2 separate regions of the Homo sapiens genome follow, and region 1 is linked to region 2. Evidence: fine-mapped expression QTL. A gene starts in region 2. The other region holds a variant in brackets. All regions are shown on one strand. Distances are from middle to middle. Region 1 overlaps CGAS (cyclic GMP-AMP synthase). Region 2 holds the start of CGAS (cyclic GMP-AMP synthase).

The links.
Region 1: its variant is fine-mapped to the expression of CGAS in whole blood (INTERVAL, PIP above 0.99).

Annotation. Positions count from the first base shown.
Region 1 is chr6:73,423,529-73,428,961 of GRCh38, forward strand. CGAS (cyclic GMP-AMP synthase) reads right to left here. Exons shown (of 5, transcript NM_138441.3): 4 at 5,181-5,283; 5 at 183-2,050. The coding sequence ends at 1,699. Among named protein-coding and RNA genes, the nearest start is that of CGAS, 26 kb to the right of the region's middle. The variant G/GATAAA (reference allele first, on the strand shown) is at 2,821.
Region 2 is chr6:73,450,342-73,455,341 of GRCh38, forward strand. It overlaps CGAS (cyclic GMP-AMP synthase), which reads right to left and starts at 1,956. Exons shown (of 5, transcript NM_138441.3): 1 at 1,184-1,956. The coding sequence starts at 1,840. RefSeq lists a silencer at 1,378-1,587 and an enhancer at 1,758-2,237.

The sequences.
Region 1 (5,433 bases), 27 kb before region 2:
CTCCAGCCTGGGCGACAGAGTGAGACTGTCCCAAAAAAAAAAAAAATTGCTTAGATTATTTTATTTGCATAGTGGTTTATTTATCATTAATTGTCCCCAAAACTCTTCAAATGTCTAATGTTTCTCTTAGTATGTTCAAACATAGTAGGCTGTTAAACAAGATGTATAAAGCAAAAACCATAAAAAATTCAACTCCAATTTATTCTCAAAAGCTTGAATGAGAAAAGAAATCAACTCCATTAAAATTTAAAAATCTTTACAATAAACAAAACAATACAAAACAAAAAAACCTTGTTTACTAAAAGACACCAAAAAATGTGCAGACAACCCATATGGCAGAAGTTATTTGTTACACAGACAACGAATGAAAGATAAATACCCCAAATATATTAAGAACTTCCCAAAACAATGAGAAGAAAACTAACCCATAAGAAAATGTGCAAAATATATGAACAGGAAATATTTAACAAACAGCAGTTGCCTCTAGGCTGAATGCTACCTAAAATAAAAAAAGTGTTACTGAAAGTAAAAATAAATAGATAACAGAAAATAAGTTAGGTTTTACATTTAGTCACGTATATTAAAATAAAGTATCTTATGTTTTCTTTTAAGATTATGTATTTCAGCCAGGCGTGGTGGCTCACACCTGTAATCCCAGCACTTTGGGAGGCCAAGGCGGGCGGATCACAAGGTAAGGAGATCGAGACCATCCTGGCTAACATGGTGAAACCCCATCTTTACTAAAAATACAAAAAATTAGCCGGATGTGGTGGCGGGCACCTGTAGTCCCAGCTACTCGGAAGGCTGAGGCAGGAGAATGGCATGAACCCAGGAAGCAGAGCTTGCAGTGAGCCAAGATCATGCCACTGGACTCCAGCCTGGGCGACAGAGCGAGACTCCATCTAAAAAAAAAAAAAAAAAATTATGTATTTCCTGGCCAGGCACGGCGGAGAGCTGTTTTTCAGTAAGAACTTGATGAATTTAATTAAGGCAATATGTACTTTATCTTTTTTTATTCCAACCTAAAAATGTCATTTATTTATTTATTTGCCTGCATGATAAAGCAAACATGGTAATGTTTTTAGATTTCAAATACTACTTTTGCTTCTTATTCCTTGACTAATCTTTTTCCTAGGATAGTCAATCCTTTATACTGATTAGAGTTTATTACAACAAACTGAAAACTGAATAATTATTTACATTCATTTTAGTCAATTATTGCTGTGACAAATTTCAAACATTCCAATTATTACAGTCACTAATTTTTGTTATTTTGTTGCTTTTCTAAAAAATTATTTTAATAATTTCCTAATTTATTTTTCTTATTTATTTATTTATTTTTTGAGAGGAAGTCTTGCTCTGTCACCCAGGATGGAGTGCAGTGGTGCCATCTTGACTCACTGCAACCTCCACCTCCTGGGTTCAAGTGATTCTCATGTCTAAGCCTCCCGAGTAGCTGGGATTACAGGCATGCATCACCATGCCCGGCTAATTTTTATATTTTTAGTAGAGATGGAGTTTCACCATGTTGGTCAGGCTGGTCTCAAACTCCTGACCTCAAGTGATCCGCCTGCCTCGGCCTCCAAAGAGCTGGGATTACAGGTGTGAGCCACAGCGTCTGGCCCCTTTTCAAATTTTTCTTGTATTCTCCAGGATTTAGGGTGACTCTAGTTCTTAGATCTTTCTAAAAATACAATCTCAAAATTCATCAAAAACTGGAAACTCATTGTTTCTTTCATATTCAATTTGCTTTGTCAGAAATTCCTTACTTCTTTTGTCAATTAAGTTGCTAGAGAATAGATTGAATTCAGGAATAAAATAATTCTCAAGTTTTTCTGTCCTGAGGCACTGAAGAAAGTATGTCACGCAGTTATCAAAGCAGAGGCCCAGGTCTTTGCGGTCCCACTGACTGTCTTGAGGGTTCTGGGTACATACGTGAAAGAAGGCAGTTTTCACATGATAAGAAGAGAATTTATCCAGATGTTTTTTGTCTTTAAACCTTTCTTTCAGCTGTTCTAAAAGGTATTTCATTAGTTTTAAACAATCTTTCCTGTTGAATAAAAAAGGAAAACACTTATTTTTACTTATTTACATTCAACAAAGGATTTTAGGCATCTCATAGCAAAAATATAAACAATAAAGATATATAATAACATAAATATAGGCCGGGCGTGGTGACACAACGCCTGTAATCCCAGCACTTTGGGAGGCTGAGGCAGGGGGATCACCTAAGATCAAGAGTTTGAGTCCAGCCTGACTAATATGGTGAAACCCCGTCTCTACTAAAAATACAAAATTAGCTGGGCGTGGTGGCGCACGCCTGTAATCCCAGCTACTCTGCAGGCTGAGGCACGAGAATCGCTTGAAGCCAGGAGGCGGAGGTTGCAGTGAGCCAAGATCGCGTCATTGCACTCCAGCCTGGGCAACAAGAACGAAACTCTGTCACACACAGAAAACAAAAACAAAAACAAAAAAGCCGGGCGCGGTGGCTCATGCCTGTAATCCCAGCACTTTGGGAGGCCTAGGCAGGCGGATCACGAGGTCAAGAGTTCGAGATCAGCCTGGCCAGTATGCTGAAACCCCATCTCTACTAAAAATACAAAAATTAGCCAGGTGTGGTGGCGTGCACCTATAATCCCAGCTACTCGGGAGGCTGAGGCAGGAGAATCACTTGAACCCAGGAGGCAGAGGTTGCAGTGAGCCAAGATCATGCCACTGCACTCCAGCCTGGGCAACAAGTGAGACTCCATCTCAAAATAAAATAAAATAAAATAAAATAAAATAATAAAATAAAATGAAATAAATGAAATGAAATGAAAT[G/GATAAA]ATAAAATAAAATAAAATAAAATAAATACAACAGTCACACTAAAATCTGATTATGTTTTCAAATATATGGTTTGAAGTTTCAAAAACACATTTTTTCCCTCTCTTTCCCATTCTTAGCTTAAATATATTCTATGAATTTCTTCAACTGTATAAAGCTAACAGATATTTATACTATTTTTTTTTTTTTTGAGACAGGGTCTCACTCTGTCACCCAGGCTGGGATGCAGTGATACAATCTCGGCTCACTGCAACCTCTGACCCTCCCCTCACCCCCCTCAAGCGATCCAAAATCTTGTTTTGTTATAAAATTATTTTACTTTATTGAACTGCAAATTTAATATAAATTTTTTCTTTTCTAAAATCCACTGATTGTATCACAGAATTATTTACATTATTAAGAGTACCATAGATAATCTGCCATCTCATCTAGTTATTTAGTAGTTGACAAAATGTACTATTTATGAAACTATTTAGCCTTATCAACAATATTTCTTTTTTTTTTTCTTTTTCCTTTTTTTTTGAGATGGAGTCTCGCTCTGTTGCCCAGGCTGGAGTGCAGTGGTGTGATCTCAGCTCACCGCAACCTCTGCCTACTGGGTTCAAGCGATTCTCCTGCCTCAACCTCCTAAGTAGCTGGGATTACAGGTGCATGCCACCTCGCCCGGCTAATTTTTGCATTTTTGTAGAGACGGGGTTTCATAACGTTGGCCAGGCTGGTCTCGAACTCCTGACCTCAGGTGATCTACCTGCCTCGGCCTCCCAAAGTGCTGGGATTACAGGCGTGAGCCACTGTGCCTGGCCAACAATATAGTTTTCTTAATGCTTACTTCAAAGCCTGCATATGAGATCTTAAAGAACCTCTGTGCCTGCATGTTGGGCATTTTTGTTTTGACTTTTTAACTTTTGTGATCTTTATACTGGCCAACTTACTTTATTTATTTATTTATTTATTTATTTATTTATTTATTTAAGATGGAGTCTTGCTCTGTTGCCCAGGCTGGAGTGCAGTGGCATGATCTCAGCTTATTGCAACCTCTGTCTCCCGGGTTCAGGTGATTCTCTTGCCTCAGCCTCCTGAGTAGCGGGGATTACAGGCACGTGCCACTGCGCCCAGCTAATTTTTGTATTTTTAGTAGAGACGGGGTTTCGCCACGTAGGCCAGGCTGGTCTCGAATTCCTGACCTCAGGTGATCCACCTGCCCTGGCCTCCCAAAGTGCTGGGATTGCAGGCCTTGAGCCACCATGCCTGGCCAATACTGGCCAACTTTAGAAACTCAAATGAACAATTCCTTTTCAATCTTAGTTCTTTATGGTGTGTATGCCATCACAAAAAAAAATGGTGGGGTGCAGTGTCTCATCCCCGTACTTCCAAGACTTTGGGAGGCCAAGGCGGGAAGTTTACTTGAACCCAGGAGTTGGTGACCAGCCTGCCTGGGCAACAAAGGGAGACCACCATCTCTACCAATAAAAAAAATTTTTTTTGAGACAGGGTGTCACTATGTCACCCAGGTTGCAGTGCAGTGGCACGATCATGGCTCACTGCAGCCTTGATTTTCTGGGCTCGAGCCATTCTCCTACCTCAGCCTTCCAAGTAGCTGGGACCACAGGCACCAGTCACCATGCCTGGCTAATTTTTAAATTTTTTATGGAGGTGGGGTCTCACCATGTTGCTAGGCTGGGATTACAGGTGTGAGCCAACAGGCCCTCTACAAAATTTTTTTTTAAATTAGCCGAGCATGGTGGCATGCACCTGTAATCTCAGCTACTTGGGGGGCTGAGGTAGGATGATTGCTTGAGCCCAGGAGATCGAGGCTGTGGTGAGCCGTAATTGTGCCACTGCACTCCAGTCTGGGTGACAGAGTGAAAGTCTGTCTCAAAAAAAAAAATTACTCACTTAGTGTTGTTTTCAGTTTGGCCAATCAATCCCTAGCCGTCAACACAACCCAACTATCCCAAAGCAAGCCCAGTATCTAATAAGAGCGACCTTTTGGCCTCCTCCAATTATATGGCATTAATATCCATTACTTTTAAACAAGCAGAATACTAAGACCCATCGAATTGTCATGGCTAGTGCTCATACCCTCTCACTCTGTCCTACTGATACATCTATACAAAAACACATTCATCTGATCCAGGGTTCAGAACTACTATTCCCCGGCCTTGCCTTCTAACAACACCCTTTCCTTGGCCCTTTGGATCTAGCTTCTCTGGTTTCATACTCACACTCTCCCCAGCTCAACCCAATCCTGCCCTGCCCCCCAGACCCAACCCAGCTCAGCTCTTCAGGTCTGAGGTGTGGAGTCAACAAATAATTAAGCATACCATAGATAATCTGTCATTTAACAAAATAAGGCTGTTACCTGCAACATTTCTCTTCTTTGTTTTCACAGCACGTTTTAGATTTTCCATGATTGTTCAAAATTTCCTTTTCGATGTGAGAGAAGGATAGCCGCCATGTTTCTTCTTAATTTCAAAAAGAAAAACAAAAAAGCACTTTACCCAAAGCATCCATATCTAAACAATATTCAAGTGGTTTCCCTCATGAAAATATCCTGGGGCTGGGCATGGGGGCTCACGCCTGTAATCTCAGTACTTTGGGAGGCCGAGGAGGGT
Region 2 (5,000 bases):
GAGGTGGAGGTTGAGGTGAGCTGAGATCGCGCCATTGCACTCCAGCCTGGGTAACAAGAGCGAAACTCCGTCTCAAAAAAAAAAAAAAGAAAGAAAGAAAGAAAAAGAAAAAGAAACAAATCTCTTGCTGGGCAAGAAACACGCTCCAGTCAGGAACCTGCTTCTAAACTTTCAATTTACACAGGAATGATTAATGACTCAATCACCCACAAGCAAATGGAGCTGTGTAATACACACGTCGAAGCAATTATACGGAATGTGTATCTAGAAAGCGTTTTAGTATCTGTAGGAGATATTCTTATTTGTTTGTTTAACATTATACTGTAAGCTTCCCATGATTTCTGTGTAAGAAACTGGGGACAGACGGCCGGGCGCGGTAGCTCACGCCTGTAATCCCAGCACTTTGAGAGGCCGAGACGAGCGAATCAAGAGGTCAGGAGATCGAGACCATCCTGGCTAACACGGTGAAACACCGTCTCTACTAAAAATACAAAAAAAATTAGCCGGGCATGGTGGCGGGCGCCTGTAGTCCCAGCTACTCGGGAAGCTGAGGCAGGAGAATGGCGTGAACCCGGGAGGCGGAGCTTGCAGTGAGCCGAGATAGCGCCACTGCACTCCAGCCTGGGGGACGCAGCGAGACTCCGCCTCAAAAAAAAAAAAAAAGAAAAGAAAAGAAAAAAGAAAAAAAAGAAATTGGGGTCAGACGGGATAGCAGGAGAGGGGGCAGGGAGGAAGAGGGGGAGAGAAACTGAAGATCTTTTTTTCTATGGAGTAAGAGGTCTTCCTCATAGGAAAAAGTCTACGTGGAATTTTTAACAGACCACTTCAAATTATCCAAGTCAATATCTGACTCGGGACCTCAGGTCCACACCATCAAACACTGCCCTGTTACGGAAACTCGATACATGTCGGCTTGCATGAATGAACCCATACATTTGAATTCCCCCGGGAGCAGTGTCTTGAAATTAGCCAGCAATCAGTACCGGTTGGTTGTCTGATCGTTGGATGTGTAGATGAATAAACGAACGGTTTGTCGTTTTACTTAGACTAGGCTACCGAAAAACATGCAAAAGTCTAAGTTACTTCCGAAGGGAAGTGAGGGGCGCGACCCGGGGAAGGTAGGGACTGCGGATTGCGGAAGGCCGAGCAGCGGGGCTCGGCGGGAGGGCGCCAAGCAGCTCACCTTCACGTGCTCATAGTAGCTCCCGGTGTTCAGCAGCCCGACGCCTCTGAACGCGGAGTCGCACTTCAGTCTGAGCAGCAGGTGGTCCACAACCCCTTTCACCATCCCCGCCGCCGTGGAGATATCATCGCGGCTGAGCTTCAACTTCTCCAAAACCGCCCGGAGCTTCGAGGCCCCAGGCGCCGCATCCCTCCGTACGAGAATGGGGGCCGAGACCGGCAGGCCGGGGCTGGGCACGTCCCAGGGCCCGGGCGGAGGTCTTGGCTTCGTGGAGCAGCGCGCGCCCCTCTGGCGGCAAGAACCAGCCCTGGAAAGAGCCGGCTCCCGAGCCGCAGGAGGCTCCAGCCCCTCTGCCCCAGGGGCGCTGGTGGCGTCAGACGGCTGCGTGTCCTGGGCGCGCTGAGGGGCCTTTTTGGCGCGGGCCCCAGTTGCGCGGACGGGCGGCCTCTCCTGGGTGTCCGGGGCGCTCTTTTTCTGCCGGGATCCCGACTTCCTGGCGGGGCCGAACTTTCCCGCCTTAGGCAGGGCGGCCTCGGGGGCAGCCGGAGACTCGGTGGGATCCATCGGGGCGCCCCTGGCATTCCGTGCGGAAGCCTTGGGGGCAGTGGCTCCGGCCTCGGAAGCTCTCTGCATGGCCTTTCCGTGCCAAGGCTGCATGGCTGGCGCTTTCTGTTCCCCGAAAGAAGAATCCGTTTCAGGAAAAGGCCGCAAGAGGAAGAGCCAGCAGCAGCTGTTGGAAACCAAGCACTACTGGCGGGCACACAAGAGTCTGCGACCCGAAGGGGAACCCCAGGCTGGGAAGTCGCTGGGAGCCACGCCCATGCCGCGAAGAGGCTGGCCGCGGCCTTTCCTGAGGCTACAAAAGTCTCGAAGTTTCTAACTCTCCAGGCAATCCGTGCCCCTGTCTTAAGAAGATGAGGTAGGGCCGGGCGCGGTGGCTCACGCCTGTAACCTCAGCATCCGAGAGGCCGAGGCAGGCGGGTCGCTTGAGCTCAGGAGTTTGAGACCAGCCTGGGCAACCCAGCAAGACCTGGTCTTTCTTATAATTAAATATATGTGTGTGTGTGTGTTGCCTGGGCACACTGACTCACGCCTGTAATCCCAGCAATCTGGGAGACCGAGGTGGGCGGATCACCTGAGGTCAGGAGTTCAAGACCAGCCTGGCCAACAAGGCGAAAGAAACCCCGTCTCTACTAAAAAATACAAATATTAGCTAGGCGTGGTGGCGGGCACCTGTAATCCCAGCTACTCGGGAGGCTGAGGCTGGAGAATCACTTGAACCCGGGAGGCGGAGGTTGCAGTGAGCTGAGACGTGCCACTTCACTCCAGCCTGGGCGACAGAGCGAGACTCTGTCTCAAAAAAGAAAAAGAGGCCAGGCGTGGTGGCTCACGCCTGTAATCTCAGCAGTTTGGGAGGCCGAGGCGGGCGGATCACGAGGCCAAGACATCGAGACCTTCCTGGCCAACATGGTGAAACCCCGTCTCTACTAAAAATACAAAAAATTAGCCGGGCTTGGTGGCGCCTGTAGTCCCATCTACTCGGGAGGCCGAGACAGAGAACTGCTTGAACCCGGGAGGCAGAGGTTGCAGTGAGCCGAGATCGCGCCACTGCACTCCAGCCTGGGCAACAGAAAAAGAGTCCATCACAAAACAAAACAAAACAAAACAAAAACATTGACAGAGAAACTTTTCTCTTTCAAGTGAAAGTTTTTTTAAATTTAATTTTGGTTTGAGTTAGGGGGGCGCAATCTCGGCTCACTGCAACCTCAGCCACCAGGGCTCAAGCGATCCTCCCACCTCAGCATCCTGAGTAGCTGTTACTACAGGTGCGGACACCATGCCCAGCTTTTTCTTTTCTTTTTAATTTTTTTGTATACATGGGGAGGTCTCACTATGTTGCCCAGGCTGGTCTCGAACTCCTAGACTCAAGCGATTCTCCCTCCTCAACCTCCCAAAGTGTTGGGATTGTAGGCATGAGCCACTGTGCCCTGCCACAGAAACTTTTTCTTTTCTTTTTTTTCTTTTTCTTTTCTTTCTTTCTTTCTTTTTTTTTTTTTTTTTTTTTGAGACAGAATTTCGCTCTTGTCACCCAGGCCGAAGTGCAATGGTGCGATCTTGGCTCACTGCAACCTCTGCCTCCTGGGTTCAAGCAATTCTCCTACCTCAGCCTCCCGGGTAGCTGGGATTACAGACGCCCGCCACCACGCCCGGCTAATTTTTCGTATTTTTAGTAGAGACGGGGTTTCGCTATGTTGGCCAGGCTGCTCTCAAACTGCTGACCTCAAGTGATCCACCCGCCTCGGCCTCCCAAAGTGCTGCGATTACAGGCGTGAGCCACGGCGCCTGGCCAGAAACTTTTCCCTTTTTTTTTTTTTTTTTCCTGAGATGGAGTCTCATTCTGTCCCCTAGGCTGGAGTGCAGTGGCACGATCTCGGCTCACTGTAACCTCTGCCTCCCGGATTCAAGCGATTCTCCTGCCTCAGCCTCCGAAGTAGCTGGGACTACAGGTGTGCGCCGCCATGCCCGGCTAATTTTTGTATTTTTAGTAGAAAGGAGTTTCACCATATTGGCCAGGCTGGTCTGGGACTCCTTATCTCGTGATCCACCTGCCTCGGCCTCCCAAACTGTTGGGATTACGGGCATGAGCCTCAGCGCCCGGCCAACTTTTTCAATGTAAATTTAAATAGGGTTTTTTAAAAATCAATAAGAAATAAAATAATAATTTTTAAAAAGAAAAAAATTAATAACAAATGAAAAATACTTTGAAAAAAGAAAAAAATAAGAAAGAGAAAATATTCAACTTTTACAAGATGGAATGAAACAAAGATTGACTGCAATTGGAGTAAATACTTCTATTTGACATTTTTTAAAAAGCACAGAAAATCTTTAAAATGTTGTGTAAAGTTTCTGCCTGGTGCGGTGACTCACGCCTATAATCCCGGCACTTTGGAAGGCGAAGGTGGGTGGATCACTTGAGGTCAGGAGTTCAAGACCAGCCTGTCCAGCATGGTGAAAACCCATCTCTACTAAAAATACAAAAATTAGCCAGGTGTGGTGGGCCATGCTTGTAAACCCAGCTACTGGGGAGGCTGAGACGGGAGAATTGCTTGAATCGGGAAAGCGGAGGTGGTAATGAGCTGAGATCAGACCACTGCACTCCATCCTGGGCGACAGGGCAAATGACTCTGTCTCAGGGGGAAAAAAAGTTGTGTAAAGTTCTCTCTTTTTATTTTATTTTATTTTATTCATTTTTGAGACGGAGTTTTGCTCTTGTTGCCCAGGCTGGAGTGCAATGGTACAATCTCAGCTCACCACACCCTCCGCCTCCCGGGTTCAAGAGATTCTCGTGACTCAGCCTCTTGCGCAGCTGGGACTACAGGCGTGCCCCACCATGCCCAGCTAATTTTTGTATGGTTTTGTAGAAATGTGGTTTCACCATGTTGCCCAGGCTGGTCCCCAACAAGCTATCTGCCCGCCTCAGCCTCCCAAAGTGCTGTTACTGGCATGAGCCACTGCACCGGACCTGGCATTTACATTTTAAATCATTCATACTGCTTCAGCTGTTGTGATTCTAGAGTATCTCAATACAGGCTTTCAAATATCTTTTTTTTTTTTTCGAGATGGAGTTTCACTTTTGTTGTCCAGGCTGGAGTGCAATGGTGCTATCTCGGCTCTCTGTAACCTCCGCCTCCTGGGTTCAAGCGATTCTCCTGCCTCAACCTCCTGAGTAGCTGGGATTATAGGCGCCTGCCACCACACCCAGCTAATTTTTTTACCTTTTTAGTAGAGACGGGGTTTCACCATGTTGACCAGGCTG